Regions from separate parts of the Homo sapiens genome. Here region 1 is linked to region 2. A link means that fine-mapping ties the variant in region 2 to the plasma level of a protein whose gene starts in the linked region. Region 2 holds a variant in brackets. A gene starts in the other region. All regions are shown on their forward strands.

What was found. PIP is the chance, under the fine-mapping model, that this variant and not a neighbour inherited with it causes the effect. Protein levels are from antibody-based Olink assays in UK Biobank. Linkage for the fine-mapping came from a reference panel and not from the study's own genotypes, which makes the PIPs less certain.
Region 1: it holds the start of STAU1, and the variant in region 2 is fine-mapped to the plasma level of the STAU1 protein (UK Biobank, PIP above 0.99).

What each region holds. Positions count from the first base shown.
Region 1 is chr20:49,180,704-49,196,353 of GRCh38, forward strand. STAU1 (staufen double-stranded RNA binding protein 1) reads right to left here and starts at 7,631. Exons shown (of 14, transcript NM_017453.4): 1 at 7,413-7,631. RefSeq lists enhancers at 1-288, 6,375-6,444 and silencers at 6,845-7,004, 7,235-7,904.
Region 2 is chr14:106,643,649-106,659,298 of GRCh38, forward strand. LOC102724977 (a long non-coding RNA gene) reads left to right here and starts at 14,247. Exons shown (of 2, transcript XR_001751026.1): 1 at 14,247-14,287. It also overlaps IGH, the pseudogene IGHVII-62-1, the pseudogene IGHV3-63, the pseudogene GOLGA4P3 and IGHV3-64. The variant G/A (reference allele first, on the strand shown) is at 7,555.

The DNA of each region.
Region 1 (15,650 bases), not on the chromosome of region 2:
CTCCCCACACACAAACCTGTGGATCAGCTTTAAGTTTTAGCTTAATTTGACATAACAAATAAAAGTAAACTGGAAAGCTATTTCAAGGGTCCATCTAAAAGACTATTACTTAACCAGACTTTCTTTCAAATTGATCTAGGGTTCTAATGAGCAAAATTCATCCTAGCTGCTGCGGTGGGGAGAGTCAGGGGAGGGCCACCAGTGACAAGCAGAATCAATTATCCTAAACAAAAAGCACCTAAGCATAATTTAGAGACAAAGCATGGTTCAGTGGAAAGAACACTGACTTTGGAGCCAGACCAGCCTGTGCTCTAGAACTAATACTTGGTGCCTCAGGACTCTGAGCCAGTTATCTGGCCCCTCGGAAGCGCATCAGCATCCTCAGCAATTATTATGAGCTTTACGCTGCAAAGATGTTTATGAGTATTAGAAATACAACATAAAGGGTCTAAGAAACCCTTTTCTTTGGTTCAAGGAAAGAGCTAAATGAACTGCAACTTTTATATTATTAGGTAAATTCAACCTGACCTTTTAATTCCTTTTCTGCATAAAATAACTTTCACCCTGTAATTCTAACCTGGCACATGGTAAGAGCTCAATAGCAGTAAATATTATTATCCAGCAAATTCACTAAACCTGTCCTTACACATAAACATCTATAAAACTTACAGCAACACTCCACTTGTAAAAAATTTTAAATAGGATCAGAGAATATGCTGACTAAAACCAACCCACTCACTGAGCAACCAGTTCTGTAGCTACATCAAGTATAGGGGCAAGGCCGGGAACAGTGGCTCAAGCCTGTAATCCTATCACTTTGCGAGGCTAAGGCAGGCGGATTGCCTGAGCTCAGGAGTTCGAGACCAGCCTAGGCAACATGGCAAAACCCCATCTCTGCTAAAAATACAAAAAATTAGCCGGGCGTGGTGGTGCTCAATTGTAGTCTCAGCTACTCGGGAGGCTAAGGCAGGAGAATTGCTTGAACCCAGGAGGTGGAGGTTGCAGTGAGCCGAGATGATACCTCTGCATTCCAGCCTGGGCAACAGAGCAAGACTATCTCAACAAAAAAAAAAAAAAAAAAAAAAAAAAAAAAAGCAGAGGCAATCTAATGAAGGTTTAACCCTCAGCAATCATGTTCATTCAGGGGAAAAGACCCCAATGTATTTAAATAGATTTTCTTAGCCTTTATTGTCTGGGAGACATGACACAAAATTTCTATCATAATAAAATGGCCAGTTTTGCTTCCATTACTGTTATAAACCCACATAGTCATCACACTTCTTTCCCAAATTAGATTCCAGATTAAACAGATGCCAGATGGGTTACAGATTTGATATTCAGAAGACTAATTTTTAATCGAAAGCAAACACTTTCTCAAATAGATTTTTCCACTTTTGCTTCCAGTAAATATACTTTGAGGGAGTTCCCTGAGTCTACTTCTTTAACAAATAAACATATGTAATCCCAGAAAATATACAGCAATTAACAGCCTGCAGAAATTTTTCTCTACTTCCATTTATCTGGTGACATAAATCACTGTTACATCAACCTTATTCACCAGTATGGGAATGTAAACACTTAAAAAACAAATTAAGCTATTTGCAGTAATTCCCATTTTACCACTTTAAAAATATTACTTTTCTCTGCAGTAAGGTTTTCTAGTTCAGAGCATTAAGCTGTCAACAAGACAGATATCCAAGCCCATCCATCCCGTGGCATTTGATAAGATCAACACAGCTATATATTTATAATCCTATTATCTCCTTAGCAGGTGAGAACAATGGATTTGGCCAACATTATTCAAGCTTCATAATACTGTATGGTAAAATGTTCATGACAAAGAGCAGAAGGTATGCCGGGCACAGTGGCTCACGCCTGTAATCCCAGCACTTCGGGAGGCCGAGGTGGGCGGATCACAAGGTCAGGAGATCGAGACCATTCTAGCTAACACGGTGAAACCCCATCTCTACTAAAAACACAAAAAAATTAGCCAGGCATGGTGGCGGGCACCTGTAGTCCCAGCTACTCGAGAGGCTGAGGCAGGAGAATGGCATGAACCCAGGAGGTGGAGCTTGCAGTGAGCCGAGATCACACCACTGCACTCCAGCCTGGGTAACAGAGCCAGACTCCGTCTCAAAAAAAAAAAAAAAAATAGTAGACGGTGTTCAGCACCATGAAACAGGGAGGCAAAAATAGAAAGTAGATGGTATCTAAAGAGATGTACAATAAAACTTCATAAACTTTGTTATATGTTTGAAATTTTTCATAATAAAATGGTGGGGGTAAATAACCATAGCAACTAACATGTCCTCTCATAGTTCAACTGATAACTGGCAATTTATATTTTTTGGAACAGCACAAATGGTATACAGCCTTGACTCTGGTGAAGTTTTATTTAAAGAAAAGCTCATGTAGAAAATTACACGAGAAGCATTTCAACCACAAATGTCTCCATCACCAGAAGTCAATGTAAAATAACCTGTTATAGGTCTAGTGTGAAACAAATCTGTCATAAAATTCTCTAAACATTTTTGAAAGCTCTAAAATCCCATTCTGAGAGAAAAGCAACTCCAAAGCTCTTATTTGAGAGGGGAGGAATTTATATTTCCTCAAATTGAACAATTCTGTGTCACTGGGTATCACATCAAATAAGAAGATCCAATTTAGAGGCTCATGAAAACAAGGCCTCTGCCTATAATCCCAGCTACTAAGGAGGCTGAGGTGGGAAGATGACTTGAGCTCAGGAGTTCAAGACCAGCCTGGGCGACAAACTCTGGGATTGACTTGTGGAATCCCACAAAAAGATACCCTTTTCATGAAAGTTTCATCTTTATACTGAATTACACTCTTACTCAATCCAGTAAAAAGGCTCAAAGAAAGTTGCCCCACAAACTGAGACTACCTTGTGGTATTGGGGAGAGAGACTGGATGAAGCAGTATCCATTTTGATAACACCCAGAATGATATCAATGATCTGGACTTTAGAATGGGGATGGAGGAGAGTTCCATGAGTCATGGCCATTTCTAAACTTAAAATACAGTAAATCCTCTCTTAACATAAGGGGTAGGTTCTTGGAAACTGAGACTTCCGACTAACACACGCTTATTGATACAAACAAGAGTTAGGTTCTAGGGCATATTTCTCATCAGAAAAATATCACCAAACTTTTAAATAAAGACCAAACACTTCGAATATTAAACACTGAAATAAATGTGAAGTATACATGCCTTTTTTTTTTTTTTGAGAAGTACTTTTGCTCTTGTTGCCCCGGCTGGAGTGCAATGGCACGATAACCGCTCACTGCAACCTCTGCTTCCCAGGTTCAAGCAACTCTCCTGCCTCAGCCTCCTGAGTAGCTGGGATTACAGGTGCCCGCCACCCAGCCCGGCTAATTTTTTTTATTTTTAGTAGAGACAGGGTTTCGCCATGCTGGCCAGGCTGGTCTCCAACTCCTGACCTCAGGTGATCTGCCCACCTCAGCCTCCAAAAGTGCTGGGATTACAGGCATGGGGTTGCAGTAAGCCGAGACTGCACCATTGCACTGCAGCCTGGGTGACAAGAGCTAAACTCCATCTCAAAAAAAAAAATTTTTTTTTTTACCACTTATTCCAGTTCAGGGTTGGGGTGGCTGGAGCCTATCTCAGCAGCTTAGGGTGCAAGGCCGGAACCAGTCCTGGACAGGACATCCACTGCAGAAAGCACTCACACTTACACACACAGCTCCACACACCAGTGAACCTCACGTGCACAGCTTTGGGATGTGGGAGGAAATCAAGAGTACCCAGAGAAAACCCATGCAGGGATAGGGAGAACGTGTAAACTCCACAGACAGTTTTTTTTCTCAACATTATCTTGAAACAACATTATTCAAGGACCTGCTGTAATCTGTATATACATGGACTTTCTGGCTGAAACCTAAAAGAGAGCAACTTATTCTCAAGAAACTATATTTATGGTAACAATTCTCAATGCTTAAAAGTTTTACGTTAAGCTTAATGGGAAGCACTACACATTTTTAAAAATGTGTTGTGTCCTTTCCCAGATACTAAATTGGCGTTTCTTTCCTAAATCAATTTTAAGAGGTGTATCTTTCCCCATCTTCCAGGTAGTCATAACTAAAACATAACATGTAACATTTCCACTGTACCTGATCAAGCTCAAAGTACACCTACAAAACTCAAATAACAGACCTAAAAGCTGAAAACTATTCACGACCAGAAATTTGAAAGTTATGCAACAAAGACATTTATAATATTTATAATATTCCTGTCAACTTCCATTGTAAGAGAGATCCTTTAGACACAAGAAAGAAAAACGTGAACACTTATGCTGTGATTTCATACTATTCACAAAAATTAAGGTTTCATTCATATTTGCTAAATTTGTTATTTGGAAATAGGGCAGACGGGGGCACTTTGGAAAACAATTCTATGTTAGAAGATTATCTTTTGCTTAATTCTTAACCTAAGGTAACAGCAGTATCTTTACACAACTACTGTAAAGAAACATTTTAAGTTTTCATTATGAATTATTAACTGTAGTTTAACTTTGACACAAAGTTATCTCTATTAAAGTGGGTTAAAAGGCAGGTCTCTGCCAAAACAGGACTGGGGAAATCTGTATTTGTTCGCTTTTCAATTATAGTCATTAATAGCTCAAGAATTTTTGCTTTTGTACACAATAAAGCAGCAAGGTTGTATTTTGATTTTGAGGAGCTGAAGGCATTGGATCAAGAGTTAATTTTCTTCTTCTTTTCTGCTGTACAGAAATCATGTATAAACAGAGAAGGGAAGCCCAACAAACAAAAATGAGAACTATTATTCTACTAAAAGTAAATTTTGTGACCTTAATCTGGGGCAATCTGGTAAAAGTCAAAATCGCTAATGTTGTGACACAATGTTTAAGATTTGTTTCAAAATAATCTAGTTTGTGTGGGGGGATACAACATGAAACAAAACCGACCTTGGCTATGAGTTAATAATTGTCAAAGCTAAGTGAGTGACTAACACATGGGGTTCTCCATACTATTCGAGTTTCGCATGTTTTCCAGAATAAAAGGTTTTTAAAAAATGGTATTTAAAATACCATTTCCCTATTGAAATATGCCATTGTGATATGGCAGTATTAGACATGCTTTATACTGCTTGTATAGTTGTTTGCTTATGTGTTTTTTTTGTTTTGTTTTTTTGGAGAGAGTCTCTCTCTGTCGCCCAGGCAACCTCCACCTCCCGGGTTCAAGCGATTCTCCTGTCTCAGCCTCGGGAGTAGCTGGGACTGCAGGCGCCCGCCACCACACCAGGCTCAAGAGATAGTCTCCATCTCCTGACCTCGTGATCCACCCGCCTCGGCCTCCCAAAAGTTCTGGGATTACAGGCGTGAGCCACCGCGCCTAACCTGCTTATGGAGGCCTAGGAGGGTGGATCACGAGGTTAGGAGTTCGAGACCAGTCTGGCCAACATGGCAAAACCCCGTCTCTACGAAAACTACAAAAATTAACACGGCGCGGTGGCGGGCGTCTGTAATCCCAGCTACTCGGGAGGCTGAGACGGGAGAATCTTTTGAACCAGGGTGGCAGAGGTTGAAATGAGCCGAAATCGCGCCACTGCACTCCAGCCTGGGCGACAGCGTGAGACTGTCTCAAAAAAAAAAAAAAATTCAAACAAACATTTTAAATTACAAACAATGGTAAGACTGTCAGAAAATTCTAGGAAAATGTCAAAAACAAGGAGGCCACTTTGCCGCATGTGTGTTAAGAGATGGGTATAAATCAAAATAGTTTCAGTTCACTAAGGAAATTTAATGCCTAAAACAATCCTAAGATACAGGAGGATCACTCAGGTAAACACACACTCCTTACTCATATAAAATTGAACACCCATAAGTTGCATTTCCTTAGAGTACACCTATAAAACTAAGTACAGAATTTTTAAAAACCCAGTATGTTTTAGTAAAGTTGCTGTTCTAAAAATCCCACCTGTCACCAGGATAACCGAAACTGCTCCCTCTACACTCCAACTGTATTTTTAGTTTTTACCTCAACAAGTAGCAATGCAATTTACACTTGGTAAGCACGGATTCCTGAAACGCCAAAATCAACCGGGAACCTGATTTAACTCCACCACGCTCTTAACAATGAAAGCTACAAGCAGAAGAGAAGTGTGACCTTAAAAACTTCCACACAGCCGAAGAACAGTGGCAGAACAGACTGAAGCACGTATCTTCGCGGAACAGAAGAAAACTTCCACACAAGCAATACTGCAACACGGAGGCGGGGCAAGGGCTTAAAAGGAAAGTCAGCCAACAGGGAGGGGTGAATATAAGCAAAGCTTCCGTGAAAAAAAACTTATCGAGGTGTAGAGCAAGACAAGACAGACAAATTTTTCCATCTCCGTACACCCCCCTTCAGAGCCCAACACACAGCAAGTGCTCTAGATAGGTTTGCTCAACTCAAGGGAAGCTTCTGCCAGCAACTTTCCCAGAAATGGAATGACAAGAAGAAGCTGGATGATGGCGGGGCGGGGAGAAATGGACAGGTTGCTCATCCTGCGGGAGATGGTGAATATCCTGCAGTTGCCTAAGCGGAGATGGAAAGAAACAGCATCCATCGTTTACAGACTGTCAACTACAGTGTCCCAATTAAGCGTACGCCCCTTTCAGATGTTAACAACTGAAAACAATGCCCTGGCTCTGGACATGGGCACGCGGAACACTGCAGCCTCTAAGAAACCCAAACGGATAGGTAGGTCAACTTCTATCCACTCTGCCCATTAAATTATACCTTCATATCACGCTAATAAATTATGCAGACGGTTTACTGGGACACGCTGTGGGTCTGGCACTCTGATAAGCGCTTTACACGCCCCATTTCACTGAACCTTAAGAGGCAGGGACGGTATTAGCAGCCCCTTTTCCAACCAAGACACAAAGACTTTTTAAGTGTCTTGCCTAACGGGGCAGAGCCGGGTTCGGCACCCGTTTTGGACACCTGGGCCGTGCTCTTAACCACTAAGCTACAGACCTGGGCCGGCGACACTGAGAGGCTCCAGCCCTCGGGGACCTGAAGCAGGGACCCCCCCCCCCCCCCGCCTGCGCCCCAGCCCCGGGAATAACTTCGGCATCCCCGCGCGCGCCATGCGGGACGAGGAAAGGCGGCCGCAGCACCTGTTTGTGGCACCGGTGAGGGCTGGAGGGGATGGGGGCGCCCGGGGCCAGGCCTCAGGGCGCCCCGAGGCGAGGGAACGCAAGAGGACCCGCCTCCTCCGGGAAGGCCCCGCGGGCTAGAGAGAGGCCCGGGAGAAGGCGGAGGGGTGCGCGGGCCCGCCGAGGCCTAGGCCCCACCCGCCGCCCACCTCCCCACCGCGGCGGCGCCCGCGAGGGCCCCACCAGGCCCGGCCCGGCCCGGCCGCCTCACCTGGCTGCTGCTCCGAGCTCGTCCCCCGGCCGGCGGTCCTGGGCGGTGGCGGCGAGGAGGGGAAGGAAGAAGGAAAAAAGGGAGAGGAAGAAGGGACGAAGGGAGGGAAGAGGCGGAGTGGCCGTGGAGGAGGCGGGCGCCGCCGGGCCGGGGGGGGGAGGCGGTCAAAGGAAGCGGGAGCCGAGAGAGACGCGGCAGCCGCCGGCGCAAACGCTGAAGAGCCGCTCAGGCGCCCGCAGCCCGGCAGGAAGTGACGGGGGAGGGGCAGGCGCCCGCCCCCGGCCCCCGCCCGCCTCCAGGCCCGGCCCCGGCCCCACCCCCACCCACGGTCCGAACCACAAGTTCCGGCTGGCACTGCGGCGGAGCCTGCGCTCGCAAGGCACGCCGGGGGCCCAGCGGGAGGAGCGCCCTGTCCCGCCTGGACCGCAGCGGCCCGTCCTGAGTCCCGGGGCCTGCCGGGAGTTGTAGTTCTGGTGGGAGTTTCGCGCTGCCTGCTGGACTCGAAGCGGGTCTGGGAGAACCCAGCCTACCTTCTTTCCTCCTCCACTTCCTTTTTCCTTCCTTGCTGTCGCTTCTTCCTCTTGTCCTGCCTCTGGCCTTCCTTTCTCTCCTTCCTGCAGTTGTTTCTTCCTCCATCTGTAAATGTTCATTAAATGCTTGCCATATGCAAGGCATTGCTCCAAGAGCTAAGAATGTAGTGGTGAACTGACAAAAATCCCTGCCCTCGTGGAGCTTACATTCTTGTGTAAGTAAAATACACAATAAATAAAATTGAAAAATGTGTAGTGAGATAAAAGACAATGGCCCGGGCGCGTTGGCTCAGGCCTCTAATCCCGGCACTTTGGGAGGCCGAGGCGGGCGGATCACTAGGTCAAGAGATCGAGACCATCCTGGCTACCACGGTGAAACCCCCGTCTCTACTGAAAATACAAAAAATTAGCCGGGCGTGGTGGCGGGCGCCTGTAGGTAAACAGCTACTCGGGAGGCTGAGGCAGGAGAATCGCTTGAACCCGGGAGGCGGAGATTGCAGTGAGCTGAGATCGCGCCGCTGCACTCCAGCCTTGGCGACAAAGAGACACTGGTCTCAAAAAAAAAAAAAAAAAAAAAAAAAAAAAAAAAAAAAAAGACGAGAAGTGCCAGATTACTATTTATTTCACCCAGACCTAGATAAACTAAGTGGTTTTTAGCAGCTGTATTGTATGGGAGGTTGGAGAGAGGGTGGCCAGTAAAGAATCTTGGCCAGGCGCAGTGGCTCACGCCTGTAATCCCGGCACTTTGGGAGGCCGAGGTGGGCGGATCACCTGAGGTCAGGAGTTCGAGACCAGCCTGACTAACATGGTGAAACCCCGTCTCTACTAGCCGGATGCAGTGGTGGGCGCCTGTAATCACAGCTACTTGGGAGGCTGAGGCAGGAGAATCTCTTGAACCCGGGAGACGGAGGTTGCAGTGAGCCGAGATCACGCCATTGCACTCCAACCTGGGCAACAGAGTGAGACTCTGTCTCAAAAAAAAAAAAAAAAAAAAAAAGAATCTTGAACTTCTGCACACTCAGCGAAAATTATGCTCGCGTTGTGAGAGGTCCAAGAAACTGAGAATGAATGAAGGAACTGCAGGTGCACAGAGCTTCTCTCTCCCGCTCACTCTGGGACTGCCGCCCCACTATTTAAAAATAATTCTCTCTTTCTTAAATGTCTCTCAATCTAATAATTGCTCAATCTCTCTTGCCAACGGAATATAAATTCAAAATACGAGCTGCTGTGTCTGAAGAGGCCCCTCCAAACAAGGCTTTGGAGCCTTAGCGAAGCCTGGGAGGACACTTGCCTCCTTACATTGCTTCTTGTGAAGTGCAATGACACTGAATTTCAGAACACCAAAAATAGTCAAAGGACTTTCACCGTCCCTTTAGTGCCCATCCAAGACAGTAGTAAGCAACATTCAGATATTGTCCAGCCCTCTGCTAAAAGTGATCTTTTCTTTCTAACTTCCAAGCAGTGTGGATCCCATACCTCCTTGGGTAAAGGAGCAGATGCAGAGAGGTCTCCCTAAACCCAAAGCTGCGCACAATCAGACAATCTCGTCAAAGGTGATTTTGCTATCACCCATAGGGACAAAAGTGGTGGGTCTATGACTTCCAGTCTCAATTTTCTTCCCTCTTTCCTCCTTCCGCATCTTTTTTGTTTTTTTCTTGAGACAGGGTCTCGCTCTGTCACCTAACTAGAGTGCAGTGGCATGAGCACAGCTAACTGCAGCCTCAACCTCCTGAGCTCAAGAAATCCTCCTACCTCAGCCTCCTGAGTAGCTGGGACCACAGGCATGTGCCACCACTCCCAGCTAATTTTTTAATTTTTTATAGAGACAGGGTTTTACTAAGTTGCCCAGGGTCTTACTAAGTTACTAAGTTGACCAGGCTGGTCTCAAATTCTAGGCTCAAGCAATCCTCTTGCCTCAATCTTCCAAAGTACTGGGGGGATTATTCCAGGTGTGGGCCACCATACCTGACCAGGAGTAGGTCACCTAGATTTGTTTTCTTCTGTTTGTACCTAGAAACTATCAGTCAAGTTCTCTTCCAAGGTCCTGAAGACCTCTTGAGTCTTGCTAAGTAATTAAGGAATCATTTTTCTTTACCTTGAGAAAAAGATGGAAGCTGTGTGTTCTTGGTTCACAAGAAACTGTGAGCATTAAGTATGTTACGATAAATTATGTGTGTTCCTTCTCACAAGATAAATTATGTGCATCTGTACTAAGGAATGGGAACATGCAAAACTCATAAAAGCCCTGTGAGATGCTGAATTTTTTTTTTTTTTTTTTGAGACAGAATCTCACTCTGTTGCCCAAGCTGAAGTGCAATGGTGTGATCTCGGCTCTCTGATGCAAAGCTCATAAAAGCCCTGTGAGACATTTATTTTTATTTTTAATTATTTTTTTTTTTTGAGACAGAGTCTCCCTCAGTCACCCAGGCTAAAGTGCAGTGGCGCGATCTCGGCTCACTGCAACCTCCACCTCCCGGGCTCAAGCAATTCTCCTGCCTCAGCCTCCCGAGTAGCTGAGACTACAGGCGCTTGCCACCATGCCCTGTAATTTTTGTGTTTTTAGTACAGACGGGGTTTCGCCATGTTGGCCAGGCTGGTCTCGAACTCCTGGCCTCAGGTGATCCACCCGCCTCGGCCTCCCAAGGTGCTGGGATTACAAGTGTGAATGTTAACCTCTGATGAATTATCTGTTCCACTCTCATAGCCTCTTAGTAGAACTTTGCACCCTTATAATTTTCAATTATCTGTTGAGTATATCTATTAGGCTAGAACTAAGTGATCAACTTCCATGACAGCAGAGACTCAGCCTGTCTTAGTAGTCATGATGGTCCCTGGCCCATAACACAGTGCCAGGGACACAATAGTACATGATAAATTTCCGTAGACTGCTGAAAAATTACAGCCTTGCTTATCTCTGCGCAAGTCCCTAAGAAACAGGGAACACCTGTAGGGTTGATTGGTGTATGTCAGGGTCACCTGTGGTATGTGTAGCACAGGAGAACAAGGTTGAGAACTACTTGCTGGCCTAAATAAGTAATTCCCAAGCTTATTTGAGGTAGCCTGCACTCCTAGGGATATATCAGAATCTAAGAGCAACAATTAGAAGACATAAAAATATAATGGGGCCGGGCGCAGTGGCTTACACCTGTAATCCCAGCACTTTGGGAGGCCAAGGCAGGCGGATCTCTTGAGGTCAGGAGTTCGAGACCAGCCTGGCCAACATGGTGAAACCCCATCGCTACTAAACATACAGAAATTAGCCAGCCGTGGTGGTATGCAACTTTAGTCCCAGGTACTCGGGCATGTGAGGCAGGAGAATCACTTGAACCTGGGAGGCAGAGGTTTCAGTGAGCTGAGATCACGCCACTGTATTCCAGCCTAGGCAAGAGAGCGAGACTCCATCTCAAAAAACAAAATGAGGCTGGGCACGGTGGTTCACGCCTGTAATCCCAGCACTTTGGGAGGCCGAGGAGGGCAGATCATGAGGTCAGGAGATCGAGACCATCCTGGCTAACATGGTGAAACCCCATCTCTACTAAAAATACAAAAAATTAGCTGGGCGTGGTGGCAGGCACCTGTAGTCCCAGCTACTCGGGAGGCTGAGGCAGGAGAATGGCGTGAACCCAGGAGGCAGAGCTTGCAGTGAGCTGAGATCGAGTCACTGCACTGCAGCCTGGGAAACAGAGCGAGACTCCATCTCAAAAAAAAAAAAAAAAGAAAAAACAAGAGAAAAAAGATATAATGGAAGATCCCATTTACAAAGCAGTGGAAAAATAAAAATACCTAGAAATAAACTTTACAAGAAATATGCACAATCTGTGTGAAGAAAAAATGTTTAATTCTGCAAAAGAATACAGAAAAAGACTTGAACAAAGAGAAATACAGGTTATGGTATTGGCTAGGAAGGTTCCATCCAGATCATTAAGATATCAGTTGATCAAGACATTGAAGGACAGCCTGGCCAACGTGGCAAAATCCCAACTCTACAAAAAAAGTACAAAAATAATTAGCCGGGTGTGGTGGCATGTGCCTGTGGCCCCAGCTACTTGGGAGGCTGAAGTGGGAGAATCGCGTGAGCCCAGGAGGTTGAGGCTGCAGTGAGCTGTGATTGCACCACTGCACTCCAGGCTTGGAGTGAGACCCTGACTCAAAAAATACATTAAAATTTAAAAAGACATTGAATGAGATCCCAAGAAAAATAACAAACAGGATTTTGTTTTGGATCTCTATGAGCCATGTCTAAAGTCTTATGGAAAAATTAATAAGAAAAATAACCAAGAACTTTCTGAAAACTCCTGACCAAATAGCAAACATACTATTGGTAAAGCATTACCAATTAAAATAGTTAGATGCTAGTGCCTGATTAGTTCCACAATCAATGGAAGAGATATTTCCAGATAGACACAAACACATGTATGAATTTAATACTCAGTAAAAGTGGTATTTCAAGGCTGGGTGCAGTGACTCACGCCTGTAATCCCAGCACTTTGGGAGGCCAAGGTGGGCGGATCACTTGAGGTCAGGAGTTTGAGATCAGCCCGGCCAACATGGTGAGATCCCATCGTTACTAAAAATAGAAAAATTAGCTGGGCATGGTGGCAGGCGCCTGTAATCCCAGCTACTGGGGAGGCTGAGGCACGAGAATCGCTTGAACCCAGGAAGTGGAGGTTGCAGTGAGCCGAGATCACACCACTGCACTGCAGCCTGGCCAACAGAGCAAGACTCTGTCTCTAAAGAAAAAAAAAAGGCCGGGCCGGTAGCTCACACCTGTAATCCGAGTTCTTTGGGAGGCCAATGCCAGGGGATCACAAGGTCAAGAGATAGAGACCATCCTGGCAAACATGGTGAAACCCCATCTCTACTAAAAATACAAAAAGTAGCTGGGCGTGATGGTGCCCACCTGTAGTCCCAGCTACTCAGGAGGTTGAGGCAGGATAATCGCTTGAACGCGGGAGGCGGAGGTTGCACTGAGCCAATATCATACCACTGCAACTCCAGCCTGGGCCTGGCAACAGCGCAAGAATCCGTCTCAAAAAAACGGGCCGGGCGCGGTGGCTCACGCCCTGTAATCCCAGCACTTTGGGAGGCCAAGGCAGGCGGATCACGAGGTCAGGAGATCAAGACCATCCTGGCGAACACAGTGAAACAACGTCTCTACTAAAAAATCCAAAAACTTAGCCAGGCGTGGTGGCGGGTGGCTGTAGTCCCAGCTACTCAGGAGGCTGAGTCAGGAGAATGGCGTGAACCCGGGAGGCGGAGCTTGCAGTGAGCAGAGATCGCCACAATGCACTCCACTGTGGGCAACAGAGACTCCATCTCAGAAAAAAGAAAAAAAAAAAAGTGGTATTTCAAATTGGTGAGGAAAAGATAGATTTCATTTTATAAATACTTTGAGACAACAAGGTAGCTTCTGGGGCAGGGGGAATTAAATGTGTACTTCATATTACATACCAGGGAACATACCAAATTGATCAAATATTTAAATAGAAGAAAGGAAACTGGGCTGGGCACTGTGGCTCCCACCTGTAATCCCAGCACTTTGAGAGGCCAGGGCGGGCAGATCACCTGAGATTGGGACTTGAGAGACCAGCCTGAGAAACATGGAGAAACCCCGTCTCTACTAAAAATACAAAATTAGCTGGGCATGGTGGCGCACGCCTGTAATCCCAGCTACTCAGGAGGCTGAGGCAGGAGAATCACTTGAACCTGGGAGGCAGAGGTTGCAGTGAGCCAAAATCGTGCCATTGCACTCTAGCCAGGGCAACAAGAGCGAAACTCCGTCTCAAAAAAAAAAAAAAAAAAGAAAAGAAAAAGAAAAAAGAAAGGAAACTGGCCAGGCATGGTCACCCATGTCTATAATCCCAGCACTGTGGGAGGCCAAGGTGGGAGGATTGCTTGAGCCCAGGAGTTCGAGGCTGCAGAGAACTATTATTATTACTATTATTATTTTGAGACAGAGTCTCGCTCTGTCGCCCAGACTGCAGTGCAGTGGCACGATCTCAACTCACTGCAACCTCCACCTCCTGGGTTCAAGCAATTCCTCGTGCCTCGGCAGCCCAAGTAGCTGGGATTACAGGCGCACACCACTACACCTGGCTTATTTTTGCATTTTCAGCAGAGATGGGGTTTCACTCTGTTGGCCAGGCTGGTCTCCAACTCCTGACCTCAAGTGATCCACCCACCTCAGCCTCCCAAAGTGTTGGAATTACAGGCATGAGCCACCCTGTCAGCTTGTAATGAGCTATGATCTCACCACTGCACTCCAGCCTGGGCAACAGTGAAACCCTGTGTCAAAGTAAAAAAAAAAATAATAATAACGGGAAACCATAAAAGTACCAGAAGAATTCCTGCAAGAATGTTTGTATCACTCTGAAGTGGAGAAGACTCTTTTAACTATAACACAAAATTCGGAATCCTTAAAGGAAAAGATCAATTCATTGACTCAGGAAAATAAAAAATGTGATAAGAGGAAATACAAAGACAAATGATAAACTGGAAAAAATTTGCATCTCAGAGAGGATGATTTCACAAATTTCATGACATGTAAGGAATTACTTTGAATAGCAGAATGATTAACAACCCAATGAAAAATGATTAAAAGATAGCAACAGGCTGGGCGCTGTGGCTCACGCCTGTAATCCCAGCACTTTGGGAGGCCGAGGCAGGCGGATCACGAAGTCAAGACATGAAGACCATCCTGGCTAACACGGTGAAACCCCGTCTCCACTAAAAATACAAAAAAATTAGCCAGGTGTGGTGGCAGGTGCCTGTAGTCCCAGCTACTCGGGAGGCTGAGGCAAGAGAATGGCGTGAACCCGGGAGGCGGAGCTTTGTGAGCCGAGATCGTGCCACTGCACTCCAGCCTGGGCGACAGAGCAAGACTCCGTCTCAAAAAAAAAAAAAAAAAAAAAAAAAAGATAGCAACAGACAGTTCATGGGAAAGGAAAAACAAATGGTTCTTAGAAATAACAATGTAGGCTGGGCGCCGTGGCTCACGCCTGTAATCCCAACACTTTGGGAGCCCAAGGTGGGCAGATCACCTGAGGCTGGGAATTTGATACCAGCCTGACCAACATGGAAAAACCCCGTCTCTACTAAAAATACAAAATTAGCCAGGCATGGTGGCACATGCCTGTAATTCCAGCTACTTGGGAGGCTGAGGCAGGAGAATTGCTTGCACCCAGGAGGCGGAGGTTGCAGTGAGATAGCGCCATTGCACTCCAGCCTGGGCAACAAGAGTGAAACTTCCTCTCAAAAAAAAAAAAAAAAAAAGAAAAAAGAAAAAAAAAAAACAAAGAAACAACAACGTAATGGCTGGGCCGCTGGCTCATGCCTGTAATCCTGGCACTTTGGGAGGCCGAGGCGGGTGGATCACTTGAGGTCAGGAGAATAGCCTGAACCCAAGGAGGCGGAGGTTGCAGTGAGCCGAGATCACACCACTGCACTCCAGCCTGGGCGACAAAGCAAGACTCCATCTAAAAAAAAAAAAGAAAGAAAGAGAAAAAAAGAGGCCGGGCGCGGTGGCTCACGCCTGTAATCCCAGCACATTGGGAGGCCGAGGCGGGCGGATCACGAGGTCAGGAGATCAAGACCATCCTGGCTAACACAGTGAAACCCCGTCTCTACTAAAAATACAAAAAATTAGCCGGGCAAGGTGGCGGGCGCCTGTAGTCCCAGCTACTCGGGAGGCTGAGGCCGGAGAATGGCG
Region 2 (15,650 bases):
CTCCTCTCCCAGAGCTGCAGGGTCAGCTGGGCTGGTTTTCATCAGCAGAGGGAGGGCCCTATTCGCATGTCCCCCACTATATAGCAAGCTCTGTGGTGGGACATCTGAGGAGAGGCTGGGCTCAGGGCAGATGAAGTGTCCTGGGACAGATTGGAATAATTGTATCATTCAGGAAAATATAATTTTATATTATGTGCTTGTGCCTTGATTAATATTTAGCTCTCATAATCTTATTTTATTCTTACATATTTATACAATATGTTTAATGCAGGTTTCAATGTTACATTTTACAGGAGATAATTTACACAGAGAACACAGCAGTTGTGCAGTGTGTCTAAAATTACACATCTAAAAAAATTAGTCCTATTACCTGGGCCTGTGCTCTAACCACTGGAGGAGGCAGCTCCCCTGAGACAACTCCAGGGCAGCGTGGACCATGCCTAGTGAAGTCTGCAGGATTCCCCATCTGTTATGACAACTTTCTGTAATTTACCAAAATACGTAGAGTGAACCATGGTTCATGTGCATGTTTTCATAAGTCAGTCATATTCCTTGTGTTAACATCGATCTGTTTATTGCTCCATTTTAGTCAAATGTTATTTTATTGGTTTCTTCGTTATTGCTTTATTCAAGTGTAATTAATAAGTAATTAATTCAAATTTATAGTGAAGGATTTGAAAAATGTTGACCTATGTTTGCAGCCATTTGCTCAGCACTTCAATCAAGTTTTGAATAATTAAATTAATCCCTAAATCTTTCTTTTATTTCTCTGAAATTCAACTCACATCCACATTACTCCCAACAGCGTATTGTCAGACAAACTCAAATCTTCTCCGTGTTAATTTACAATAATGGCATCTTCTAAAATTCCTACAAATGTATCATATAAAATTTACTCTTAACTCCTTAGTTTCTTTCACTAAACAGAATTACTTGAGAATTTAGCCATGTTGTTTATATGAGTGAGGCATGCCTTGATTTCAAGCTGCGTTATGTTCCAGTACATAAATATATGCCAAACTATTTAATTGTTCACCTGTAACTAAATGTGATTTGTTCTCTCAGTTAATGGATTTGATAGAGAAAAGCAGCTACTAAAGCATGGGAATATAAAACGGAGCAAAGTATGGGCCGGGCGCGGGGGCTCACGCCTGTAATCCCAGCACTTTGGGAGGCCGAGGCGGGCGGATCACAAGGTCAGGAGATCGAGACCATCCTGGCTAACACGGTGAAACCCCGTCTCTACTAAAACTACAAAAAATTAGCCGGCCATGGTGGCGGGCGCCTGTAGTCCCAGCTACTCTGGAGGCTGAGGCAGGAGAATGGCGTGAACCCGGGAGGCGGAGCTTGCAGTGAGCTGAGATAGGGCCACTGCACTCCAGCCTGGGTGACAGAGCGAGACTCCGTCTCAAAAAATAAATAAATAAATAAATAAAAAGAGTAAAGTATTATCTTATTCTGACCTCATTAACAACAAACCTGAACAACCACACACAAAAAAACCTTCAACATATTTGAGTTTATATCAGAGAGAAAACAAACAATAAACAAAACCTGAAATCTGAGGAGAGAGGAGGCTGCAGAGAAGCAGGACCCATATATTAGTGTACCTGGGGCAGATACAACTGGATGGCATTTAAGATAGGAACAGGCTGGCTTGGAAATATTCAGCGAGTTGCGTGAGGATGCACGTGCTCATAGTGTTAGACTGTGAAACTCCTGGTGCTTGCAGGCTTTTCCTACAGAATTATTATTAATATTCTTGCTGCACTTTATGCAAATAATCAGGCCAAGTTTAAGACTAAAGTTTATTTTGCAAACAACTCAGTCTTACAATTACTTGATTCTGACAAAAACCAGAACTGGAAAGAGAAAAATTGTATTTCAAAACATATCATACGATCATCTTTAAATTCTAATCTCTTCAGTTGTTTAAGTATTTGCCTGCATTTTAGACTGACTGCTTATTCCTGAGCGCCAATCAATGATCTCTGGCTACAGCCCAGAAGAAACAAAAAGCGATGGGGAATATAAAAAAATCTGTATCAATATTTTAATTCTAAGCAATTATCCTTTAAATCATGCCAGGTGATGGGAATGAATAGGGTGCCCCTAACCTGGAGGTTTCTTTGTTTGGGAAAATAAATCCCAGGGAGCTGACAAAAGCCAAGCCTCATGCGCCCAAACCTTAGCAGGCATAACTACAGCCGCAGTTATCTGGGCATGTCAGCAGCCTTGGAATTTTCTTTCAAACTGTCCTTACCACCTTGACCACCTTGTTAGGTTTGGATACATGTCTTCTAATAATCTGATTTGCCTTTTCTCGTTTTCAGACCATCAAACTCCAAATGCTCATGCAACTGAAGCCTGGGATAATGGCTCCCTTTTCCTGGGGTCCCTTAGACAGGCCTCCAAGAGAGATCTTCCCCAAACAGCATCCCCCGTCAGCTGGAAGCAGTTAAGATTTGTCTTTGTCTCTATTCTAACGACAGTTAGATGTATTTCTTCAAAGAGGAAAATGATAGAGGTAGAAGGCAGAGAACTCTCCTAGGCAGGTAGGGAAGAGTCCCCATAGAATCTCCAATGCACCAAGGTCATTGTGCACAGGGGGTTGCCTAGACATGCCTGCAGTGAAAATTGTTAATGTTGTCTTTATCACTCTCGGAATAAATAACCACACATAATAATCCAGCTGCATGAAGATAAAAAATAACTAGTTTGAAATTAGAACAAGTTCCAATAAAGTCAAAGTTAGCATGTGGTTTATAACATGATAGGAGACATGGCTGAATACTAAGAATGTGTTCACATCTGTTTTATGTCATGATCAGGAAAATATTTTGTATATTCTCTATGTAAGAGTCCCATTGAGAGCATTGATGAACACTGATGGATAATACCTCAATAATAAAGTAAGGGTTATTAACTAGTAATTTGTATTAAGAGAACAAACTTTTATTTAGGATATATTATTATATGTGTTGTGAAATCAACTGAGAAGGCAGAAAACATTGAACTTATTAGAGCTTTTTAATAAATTAAAAATGAGAATTAAGTACATATGTTTCTAGATTGTGCATAACTTTGGAATGTTTTGTTTTCTTTTATTTTGAGATGGACTCTCGCTGTGTCTCTCAGGCTGGAGTGCAGTGGCACAATTTCGGCTCACTGCAACATCAGCCTCCAGGGTTCAAGCAATCCTCAAGCACCACCATGCCCGGCTAATTTTTGTATTTTTAGTAGAAAGGAGGTTTCACCATGTTGGCCAGGCTGGTCTCAAACTCCTGACCTGAAATGATCCCCCCCACCTCGGCCTCCCAAAGTGCTGGGTTTACAGGCATGAGCCACTGGCCTGGCCTGGAATATTTTTACAAACAGAGAGGGTTCTTATGTATTCTGGAAATCCTATCAAACTGGAAAACAAGGAAAGAAACTCTCAGATGAATTTCTACTTACTACAGAGCTGATTAATATCATTTTAAAGCCAACGCTAACACGCAGACAAAAAACTAACATGGAGCTAAAAAATAAAATATACAGTGATTCAATACAGCAAACACTGTAGCTCAATCTAGTTTATAATATTATCTAATCATGGAGGGCATTGTCTTTGTTCATACGAGACAGAGTCAATCCCACTCACAACCTTCTGGGAATGTTTAAAAAGTGGCATCTCTACATATTTTAATAAAATGTAAAACTCCCTTGGTCAAGGGTTCTTCCACTAGCACTATGGAATCATGGTCCAGTCCTCAGGGTACATCAGTTATTACCCTATGACTTGGTAGCTAAAAGGCCCATACGTTTATAGACTTTACCCCCAGAGATCATGTTTGCTCTATTGCATGCATGTGTTACAAAATACTGAAAGTGATTCCTGTGTGATATCCACTCTAACAATGAAGAGTTTAAGGCTGCCTTTTTACTACATATTTTCCACAATTCCCTGTGATCTTCAGCAAGGAAACTGGAAGGAACATCAGCGGAAAATACTGCTCGTGAATCACATAGGAAGGAACCTTATCAGATGCTTTTAACTAACTCACTGCAGAAAACATTCAGGCAGTTAATTATTGGCTTCATATTTTACAACTAAAGAATAAATTCAGGTCAGATGCAGTGGATCTTCCCTATAATCACACCACTTCCAGAAGCAAAGTGAGGGAAATCCTATGAGACCAGGCAATCGAAGCCAACCTGAGCAACATAAAGAGATGCTATTTCTATGAAAAAATGTTTAAAAAATAAGGAGGGTAGGGGTGGTGTGCCCATCTAGTTGTAGATACTCAGAAAGCTAAGATGGAAAGGTTGTGTGAGTCAGGAGCTCAAATTTAAGGTGAGCTATGATCACACAACTGTACTTTAAGCTGTGGAACAGTGTGAGAGCCTGTCCCTAAAAACAAACAAAAAATAATCAATTAAGAATTCCACACAACTGTAAAGCTACTCAAATAGGAGATGTTAAACTGAGCATCCTCATAGACCCTCTGGCGTTTCTGATGTTTTTAAGCAGATGGCTGACCTAAGACCTGCAGAATAAGCTGATAGTCCTTGATTGTGAAAAGCTTCTACCCAAGACATTAGACCAGGCCCCTGTTTAATTTTCCATCCACTTCTTATTTTTCTCATTATTCTTTGCTTACATTTCTAAAGTCATCTCATTTCTGCAGATCTGGGTGTTGTCCACCCATACTGAACCCTTGTCTTCTTTCTTATTCATTATTTTTATTCCTGCTGCATGGAATAAGTTGTCACTCTATCTTTTGGTGCATGACTGCTGATTACTTAAGGCTCACTCCTCCATCGTCTCCTTTTTTGCCACACAAGATGAATCTAGTTCAGACTCACAGGAGCTTCTTCATTTGATGCCAGTGGGAGTTTCAAACCCTATAAACCCCCATCTGTGAGTGGGAAGCTTCACTTTGCCCCCACCACTAAACCATTATAAAAACCCTGAGCCAGTCTCCTTTGGTTTTCTTTCAAGCCATTTTAGATTTTCCTGGGAGACCTGCCCTGCACTCAGCAGACACCTCTACAGTGTAGATAATGAACTTTTCCCTATTCACTTGCTCTGAGTGTGTGACTTCATTAGACACAACATACACACTAAATCTCACTTGAGATCTCTTGGCTTTGCATGGTGTCAACTACAACTGATAATATGAACTTGGTGTCACTGTTTCTATCAACAGGACACACTGGATCCCTGAAACAACTCCAGGACAGAACTGGACATGTGATATAGATTGGTTTTGTGCCCCACCTAAATATCATCTCAAATTCTAATCCCCACATGTCAAGGGAGGGACCAGGTGAGAGGTGATTGGATCATGGGGGCAGTTTCCCCATGTTGTTCTCATGATAGTGAGTGAGTTCTAACAACCGCTGATGGTTTAAAAGTATGTGTCACTTCCCCTCCTCTATCTCTCTCCTGCTGGGCTGTGAGACGTGCCTTGCTTCCTCTTCACCTTCCACCATGATTGTAAGTTTCCTGTGGCCTCCCCAGCCATGCAGAACTGTGAGCCAACTATACCTCTTTTCCTTGTAAACTACCCAGTCTCAAGTAGTTTTTTATACCAGTGTGAAAATGAACTAATACAACATGCCTGGTGGGTTTGATAAACTTTCTTAGTGATGTAAAATTATGCCATTATTTTGCTGTATTCTAGTGCTTCTCTAAAAATACAGAGATGTCCAGTGCTCATTCATGTGTATATTCAGGATTCTCTGACTTTTCATGTATTTTATTTATCTTTAATTCCTTTGATACCAATTTATACCTGTTCTAATTAATACTATCTTTAATGGGGCTAAACTAAAAACAATAATCTCCACATGAAGTGTTCAATTTTGCAAATATTGTCATAGACATTATCACTATCAACATAGATAACAAGTCAATTCCCTCAACATTTTATCTTGTTCCATAATTCCTCCTTCCTAGACCATCCCTTCTCCTACAATATTCACAGTGAACTACTGATTTTTTTTTTGCAACTTTAGATTACTTTTTGTTCTATAGAACTTATGAAAGTTGTATCCTATGTATGCACTTTTATCACTTGGGCTCATTTTACTCATCTGAAGTACTTGTGAATTTAACCATGCTTTTGAGCATAGCCAACATTAGCTGATGGTAGTAGTGGGTAGTATGTCAATGAATGACTTTTCCACAATGTGTTTACCAGTTAAGCTGATGATTGACATTTGGGTTGTTTTTCATTCTGGGTATTATGAACAAAGATGCTACTCAGCTTAGAGAAGTACACAGCTGGGAAACAGATGGTTTTTATTGCTACAACAGCATAAACAATGAAGCTGCAAAACACATTAATCAGGTTTATTGAATACATCAGGTAATAAAAGTTATAGATTTATGTGTGTTGTGGGGTGGGTGTATGTAAATTTCTGTGTGAGAGAGAGAGAAGAAGGGAGGACGGAAGGCAGAAAAAGACACACCTAGCTATGGTTATATATTTATATCAATATCATTTTCTAATCATACAAACACATGCATTAGAACAGATGTAGTGGAGGGTGTCTGGTGGTGAAACATGATGGTGACACAAAACGCCTCATCCAGCCCCTTTTCACACCAGCTGCACCTGCCCTGAAGCTGAGCCTTGAACCTGTTCTTTCTGAATCCCCACAATTGTCCTGAGCCCCTCGCTGTACCGAGCACCCTTTGGTGTCCTGATTTTCCTCCATGGTTCCTGAGAGCCCCCGGCTACCTGCGTGCCTCTACAATGGTCTTGAGTGCCCCTTGGTGTCCTGAGAGCCCCCTGGGCTCCGGAGTAACCCCTTCTGTCCTATGCATCCCCACAGGGAGGTTTTGGTGTGAGTTCACACTGTGATTCCCTCACTGTGTCTTTTGCTTAAAAATATATGGCTATGTGATTGTTGCTCATGTAGCTCAGCTGTAGGAAGAACTGTTTTTGGACATGGATCTGGGGATGGTGACTGGACTCTTGAGGAAAGGGGAGTAATGTGTGCTCCCTTCATGACCTATGCACCCAATCCACTCCATTCCCTCCCAGAGAGGGGCTGATGGATGCAGCTCCAGGAGGAAGCACTGGTTGTGATGGAGAATGCAGAGATGACACACATGAGGGAGAGGGTCTGTGAGGGCTTCACCAGGCCAAGAGTGCACCGAGAAACACAGTTGTTGGCAGGCACACGTTCTGGACAATATGTTGAAATTCCCAACTACATACATTTCTGTGAGAATAAAGAGCTCACCTGTGTTCGATCCGTGAGTATCCCAGAGTAATGCAGTGGATTCTGATGTTGGATTCAGACAAATATAGGGTCACATGTTTCTCCATACTTGGAACCAAGTAATAAAGAGAAACTTATGTCAGGAGAATAGCCATTGAACTATCTCTCTTTATGGTGATTTTCAGAATAGGATTCAGATGTGATAACTTAAAGAGTGTCCTAATTCTTAACCCACAATTAGGCCTGAGAAGCAGTCACAGGCACTGGAGGTCGCCCACATGGAGAAATGTCTGACTCACTGAAGCTGCACCTGGGGGTCTCTGCAGGCTCTGAATT[G/A]TACAGGAACAGCTCCTCCCCTAGACTCAGAGTGAGGACAATCTCTGCTCTTTCTCTAGGGGAGGTGAGGGTTAGTGTGTGGAAAGAACCCAACTTATTTTCAACAAGATCTCTGTACTTGGGCAAAAAGAAAGAATATGAGAAAAAATGATTTCAGTTTAAACAGAACAATTTCTCATGTGGAAGGCAAAAATATGTTTGGATCTTGCACAGAATTAAGAAACAATGAATTTGGGGTAAAGTTGAAAATTACAATTTCTTTGCAGATTCTGTTTTTAGTTATCTATGTCATCTGAGAAAATGAAGTAAAATCAGGGTTTTTATATAAAAATTCACAAAGAGGGTGCTGGGCCTGAGAATGCACCTCAAATCCCTCCAACATCAGGGAGCCCAATAGACCAGGCAGCCAGCTGCTGTACTGCACTCTAACACCCGCCACCTGGTGTGTGCCAAAGACACTCATCCTGGGAGCTCCTCCCAGACAATGGCTGTGCACAGTGGAGATACTGAGGCAAGGCTGCTGCTGGGACACATGGGAGATTCCTGATGGACTACTGTGCTCTGGAAGGCACCAATGGCCTTGCTGGACTTAGCTCGGACCACAGGATAGGTAGGAAGCTCCACTGAATGCCCACTACTCTCCAGTGCTAGTTGTGAGACTGGCATTGCGGGGTGGCAGTGTCTACAGCCTCACCTGGCCGCCTGTGCACTTTTGTGCCTCTAATACTTACTTTTGTTTTTGGGACATATAAGAATGTTTCCTCTTTTAAATTAAAGTTTTGTAATCCAGGGACCTCATGGTGGGCACAGAAACATAAAAGTGCAGAGGATTCGAGGGGAACTGCTACATGCAGAGGAAAGCACAGATCCTGAAGGACAGCAGCCCTTGACTGCTTTTCTGTACCTGCCCTGGGGCTCCACCTGTTTTGTGAGTGCTGAGTGTCCCCTTCGGCCCAGAATCCTTTCTTCTTTCTGCAGGAAATTTTGTGTCTGGACTCACACCGATGTTTCCTCACTTGGAACCTTATGTACAGCCATGCATGGTCATGTCCTCAGCTCTCAGACTGTTCGTTTGCAGATACGGTGAGTTCTTAGCATTGTCTTTGGAGATGGTGAATCTGCCCTTCACAGAGTCTGCATGGTATATCTGACTTCCATCATATTTTACATCTATTACTCCCTCCAGCCCCTTCCCTAGAGTCTCATTGACCCAGCTCATTCAGTAGCTACTGAAGGTGAATCCAGAGGCTACACAGGAGAGTCTCAGGAACTTCCCAAGTTGTCTCAGGCCCTCTATGGACTCTATCAGCTCCACCTCACACTGAACACCTGAAAATACACAAACGTCCTGGTCAGAAACTGCCAAACACATCTACTGTTTTTCTCACTTATATCCACTCACTCTCACTCACTCTATTTCTCTATGAGTCACCTTTTAAAATAGCAACAAGAAAAATTCTGGTTAGCTCAAACCCCATAGTGAGCTCTGTGTTCAGCCCTGATTACCACATGGAAACCCCTGGGAATCCCAGTGCTGTGGCTCTTCTCCCAGAGCTGCAGGGCCAGGTCTGGGCTTGTTTTCACCAGTAGAGGGAGGGCCCTGTTTTCATGCCTCCTCCTCTATAGCAAGCTCCAGTGTGGGATGCCTGAGAAGAAGGCAGTGCCCAGAGCAGATGTGAGACTCCCGGAGGAGCATAATTGAACAAGTGGAACTAGATTAACAAAAAAAGATTCTGCAAAGCAACGAAATAATTCCAACTCACAGAATTGGATAATATACCATGTATCTGGAGGAGTTAGTGGCAATGACAGCATTTGGGAAAATATGATTATTCATAACGTGATTGTGCCATGAAACTCACTAAGCAATTATTATTTTATTTTACTTTTTACACAGTACAAATACAAATATAAATGCATTAAGCAAACTTTAAGATATATATATAGAGAGAAATAGAAAACTATATAAAAATAAGGGAAAACCTTAATACCTCACTTAGAATAATGTATAGCAAATCCAGAAAGAAAATTCTTAATAAGCCTCTGAACTTGAACAACAGTATTGAACAAATTTACCTGAAAGACATTTACAGAACCTTCCAACCAAGAGCCATGTAATACACATCCTTCTCAAGCACCCATTGAACATTCTCCATGATAGGTTATATGTTACATCATAAAATTAGTCTTAACATTTAAAGAATTAATGCTAATGCTTCTCTAACTCTTTCAAAAATTGGTGAGGAGTCCACCTTCCAAACTCTTTTTTTATATATAGTAAATAAACTTTATCTGTTTCTCAGAGATGACACTGCCAACAGTCACAGATTTGCATACAATACTGTTAGGTATTGGGTATTTACAATTTACAGTATTTTTTTTCCTCTGAAAAATATAAGCACAAAAGCTAAGTAAACAATGACGTACTGCCATTTGGAATTTATTACATGCCATAGTGTAAAGAACTGGTCTCTAACAAATATTCAACAAACCAACCTGAATAAAATAGTCGGTTAGGGATTTAGTACATGGCACAGCTTAAAGAACTGGCCTTTAGCAAATATTCAACAAATCAACCTTAATACAATAGTCAATTAAGTGATTTATTATTTCTAATTCATTAGAAAAAATCCACTAAGTCTCACCTCAAAATGTATTGCACAATCTTTATGAAAAAAATCACCCTAAAAATAATTAGGAAAGGTAAGCAGTTCTTTAAAAAGAATGGAAGAAAGGAATATTATGTAAGCCCATTAAGCAGGTTAAGTTATTCAGAATATCTTTTAAACAACATAAAACTCTTCCCTTGGGAGGCCGAGGCGGGCGGATCACGAGGTCAGGAGATCGAGACCATTCTGGCTAACACGGTGAAACCCCATCTCTACTAAAAATACAAAAAGTTAGCCAGGCGTGGTGGCAGGCGCCTGTAGTCCCAGCTACTTGGGGGCTGAGGCAGGAGAATGGCATGAACCCAGGAGGCGGAGCTTGCAGTGAGCCGAGATTCTGCCACTGCACTCCAGCCTGGGCAACAGAGCGAGATTCTGTCTCAAAAAACAAACAAAACAAAACAAAAAAACAAAAAACAAACAAACAAACAAAACTCTTCCCAACAGAAAACTGAAGAAAAAAACTATCACCGTTTCTCCACTGATAAAATCTATTTTAAAGGTAGTCTGCAACACACCTTCCAAACTCTTTCTATGAGGCTACCGTTAGAGTACTACCAGTAATAGACAAAGGCACCACAATAAAAGAAAATCATAGACCAATATCATTAGTAGACATAAATTAACCCCCCAACAATAGTAAAATAAATTCTAAAGATTTTATAGAAGACCATACACCATGATCAACTCAAATTTATTCTGAGATGCACAGATGATTTGACATTCTCAAATCAATCAATTCAGTTGATTAATTAAAAAACTAAAGAAAAAATATCTCAGTAACATTTCATCAGACACAGAAAACACTTGAAAAAAATTCAGGATTTCATTATAAAAACTCTGAACAAAGTAGGAAGACAAGAAAACAACTTGTACATAATGAAACCAATTAAGAAAAGCCACAGCTATTATTATACTCAATAGTAAAATTTTAGAATATTTTGGTCTAATATCTGTAACAAGGCAAGAATAAAGCTTGAGGTATTACACTTCCAGGCCTCAACATTTATTAGAAACATACAGTAATAAATCAGAATGGCATTCGCATAAATTCATACAGAGAGCTTAGATATAAACCCACATATTGATGGCCAGCTGACTTTCAGCGTGAGAACCATCAATATATAATTGCTAAATTATAGTGTCTTCCAAAGAGCGTGTTATGAAAATTGGATATTTACATGCAAAGAATTAAGAATTTTAGGTTAGAATAAACAAAAAAATTAATTCTAAATGCATTAAATACTTAAATGAAACACGTGCAATTGTAAAACTCCCAACCCTCAAAAAATTAGCAATCTTTTTCTGGATTTTACATTCAAACAAATAAAAAAACACAGAATTGGACAAGTGGGACTAGATTTAAAAAAAGATTCCGCAAAGTAACAAAATAATTCCAACTCACAGAATTGGATAATATGCCATGAATCTGAAAAAGCGTTAATATCCAAAATGTAAATGAAACATCTACAACTCAATAACAATAATAAAAATAGCATAATTTAAACATAATCGGTTTTACACCTTTAACAATGTGAGAACCTCAAACTCATGTTCAATGTTTTTCTCTGTGGGTAACAGTCTGCCTGATGGTATGCTTGGTTGGGCAATACTTTGTAGTTATTTGATCAAACACTAATCCAGGTGTGAATTTTTAAATAGATGTTATTAAAACTGTGATCAGTTGACTCAATATTAGGTAGATTATCATCAATAACAAACTTGGCCCTGATTCCATCAGAACAGATCTGGAGAAGGTAAAACTCCGTGGTGATTAAGCAGCTTGAGATCTTTCTAAGATTTCCAGCCTGCATTTACTGATGGCTGACCCTAAGGATACTGCACGTTTCCAGCCATCCCCCAAAACTGTCATCCCCTACATCTCACAGGAAAGTGGTGTGTCCCTCTGCAGCTTGTCAAACCTAAACATCAGAGAGAAAGAGATTCTCCAAAATCAAATCGTATTTATTTGAAAATGAGCATTGCAATGGGATTATCCATGGTCACATTTAGGTTGGTAAAGAAAGACAAGTGTCTGAAGGATAAATGAGAAGATTACCTGAGCTATTTTGAGACAATTATCCTGGGGTAGAAGAATCAATAACAAGGGTAGAATCAGTTTAAGGCTGAACAGGGAGTTGCAGGGCAGATATCCCCTCAGTATTAATTCTCTTATTGTTGTGGTAGCCTTTGTTCAAGATTGTGGTTGTGCAGAGTATTTTTAGGGTAATTCTTGTTATCAGGGATGTGTGCATGAGAACCCTCTATTCATGACCTCTTCCAGCTTCGCCTGTAAAGATTATAACACACGTGGCTCCATTTTTATTCTGACAACGTTCACACCCACTTCCTTCTCCACTAGTGAAGAACGTTACTGTGTGACGGTTTTTCAGAACAGGATTAGAAACACATCCACATCCCACATTAACCAGACAAGCTTGTCCCTTCAGTTCCCACTGGCAACTTGCATTTCCAGATGAGTCTCCATGCAACACAGTGGAGGGTCCTGAGTGACGAAGAGTGAAGAAAGTCCCACCAGACTCTCCTGCGTGACTGCAGCAGCCACAGCCTGAGACCCACCTGAGCGCCAAGAAAAGGGCTTGAGGTCTGGAATTTTGACCACAGCAAAAACATCTTCCTTTTTCGGAAAGCAGGAAAAGCAAATGGAAAAATGAGAACAACATCTAAAAAAGACAGTAAATGAATTAGGAAAAGAAGCTCCAGATCAGTATTGATTCTGATTTGCATTCTTCAGTGTCAGGAGAAGGGTCCTACGAGAAACCTGTGAGGTTCTACATGACACTGACCCTGGCCCAGCCTCTCTTTTTTCTGTAATCAGAATCCCCAAAGACTGTTCTTGCTGGGATTCACTCAGGATGGTGGCGGAAATATTAAAGGGGAATATTAAGGAAAGTTATAGGGAATAGTCATATACCTTTTTAGAAGGCCGAAAGGTTACATAGCTTGTAATAATTGAACAGGCTGAAGGCGGCCAGTTCTTACCTTAGAGCGTTAGGCATAGGGTAAATACTAGGGACAATAGAGGCCTCCCCAGTTAAGTCTGGTTACCCTACCTCCATTAACTAACCAGGGTATTGCCCCCTAATGGTATTTACTTTAGACCGCAGTCCCTGAGCTTTAATCATTCGTAGAACTACTCTCTTAACCATGTTAATTATCCACAAGTGTGTTGTCAGAGCTTCTGTTGTTAATTCTATACTCAATACACGCCTGGAGTGCGAGCTGCTCAGGGCCACTGCTGCCGTTCTTTACAGGATTCTTCTTGGAGTCTGTAAGTTGCCTCGGACCCTCAGCTGAACTGGCAAAACAGAATATCTGTGTGTCAGTGTACGTTTTATTCATCCGCCACCGGGTCAGGGGTCTGCAGGAACAGACCCCCCGCAGCTTGAGTTCTCTTGTGAGGAGCAATACCTCAGTTCTAGTCAGGATTCTTTCTGGAGTTCCTGTCCTCAGTCTGACTGGAGAAGACTCACCAGGAAGCCCTGAGCTTCCTCAGGACTCTGACAGTGGTGACCATGGTTGAGAACTTTTCATCTCCTCTGTGAGGATCAATCTGCATTTTCTGCATAGGAGAATAGGTTTTCATATTAAAACAATCATTTTAAAAATATGTAGAAATGACCCTAGTAATCACAGAATTCCGAACTTAGGTTCAGTAGAGAAACTTTAAGAAGATGAAGTCCCACATCGTGACAGGAAATCAGCCTTCATCTGCACCTGCCGCTGGGGCTGACTCTGATCAGTGGCTCCTGAGCGCCCCCTGCAGATGACTTTCCCCAGCGTTCCCGCAGGGAGGTTTCTGCATGGTCCCACATTAACTTCTCCTCACTGTGTCTCTCGCACAGTAATACACAGCCATGTCCTCAGCTCTCAGGCTGCCCATTTGAAGATACAGCGTGTTCTTGGAATTGTCTCTGGAGATGGTGAATCTGCCCTTCACAGAGTCTGCATAATATGTGCTACCCCCATTACTACTAATAGCTGAAACATATTCCAGTCCCTTCCCTGGAGCCTGGCGGACCCAGTGCATAGCATAGCTACTGAAGGTGAATCCAGAGGCTGCACAGGAGAGTCTCAGGGACCCCCCAGGCTGGACCAAGCCTTCCCCAGACTCCACCAGCTGCACCTCACACTGGACACCTGCAAACACAGAGACACCAAGGTCAGAAACTGCCACACAAATCCACTGTTTCTCTCACTCATGTCCACTCACACTCAATATCTCTATTTCCTCATGAATCACCTTTAAAAATAGCAACAAGGAAAACCCAGCTCAGCCCAAACTCCATCATGACTCTTCTGTGTTCAGTGCTGATCACCAAATGAAAACACCTGGGAATCCCAGGGCGGGGGCTCCTCTCCCAGAGCTGCGGAGTCAGGGCTGGGCTGGTTTTCATCAGGAGAGGGAGGGACCTATTTGCATGTCTCCTACTATATAGCAAGCTCTGGGGTGAGATGCCTGAGGAGAGGGCAGGGCCCAGGGCAGATGAGAGTGTCCTTGGGGATTTCGATGACAATGATTACATTTGGGAAAATGCTGTTTTATTGTGAAATTGTTGTGTGATAAACACTTAATAACTATCACATTTTTAATTATTTTTACCTATGTGTATAAATTATGTTATTTAGGAATCAGTGGTTTCTTCATGTACAGATGTAAAAGTGAACCCACACATGGAGGGGCTATGTATGTGTCTAAGGGCTTATATCTGGCATGAGTGAGTCCTAGTACCCGGGCCTATGCTCCTCACAGCTGGCCTCAGTTGCTCTTTTAACCAACTCTAGGACAGAGATAAACGGGCCTAGTGTGGTTTGCAGAATCCACTTCCTGCCACGACAACCTGTGTGATTTTGCTGCATTTACCTAAAAATACGGAGAAAACTAGGGGTCAGACAAATAAATTTTTAGGTATATTTGACATTTAACATATTTATTTGTTCCTTCCTATCACCCTCTTTTTGTCTAAAATTTCAGTTTTTTTGTAATAAATTTTATGAGGTTTAATTGACAGATAAGAAAATTCACATATTTATTCTGTACAATAGTAAACTTTGAAAAATAAAATCTCTATTTTTAAGAAGGTGACAAGTCAACTCCCCTCAGCATTCCTCTTGCTCTTTTATATTTTTTTGGTTTTTCTCCTTCCCTTCTTCTACCATTTCTTTATAAATCTACTGATGTTTTCACATGTCTTTTGACTAGCTTTTATATTCTAGAATTTATAAGAATGAAAAAATATAGTATATGCTCTTATGTATTTGGATTATTTTTCTCAATAGAAATACTGAGAATTAAATCTTTTATGTTGCATGTGTTTATTTCTTACAAATAATGGGTAGCATTTCAGCAAACAAATGTAGCATAATTTGTTTTTCTATTAAGTTACTAACTGGCATTTGAATTTTTCA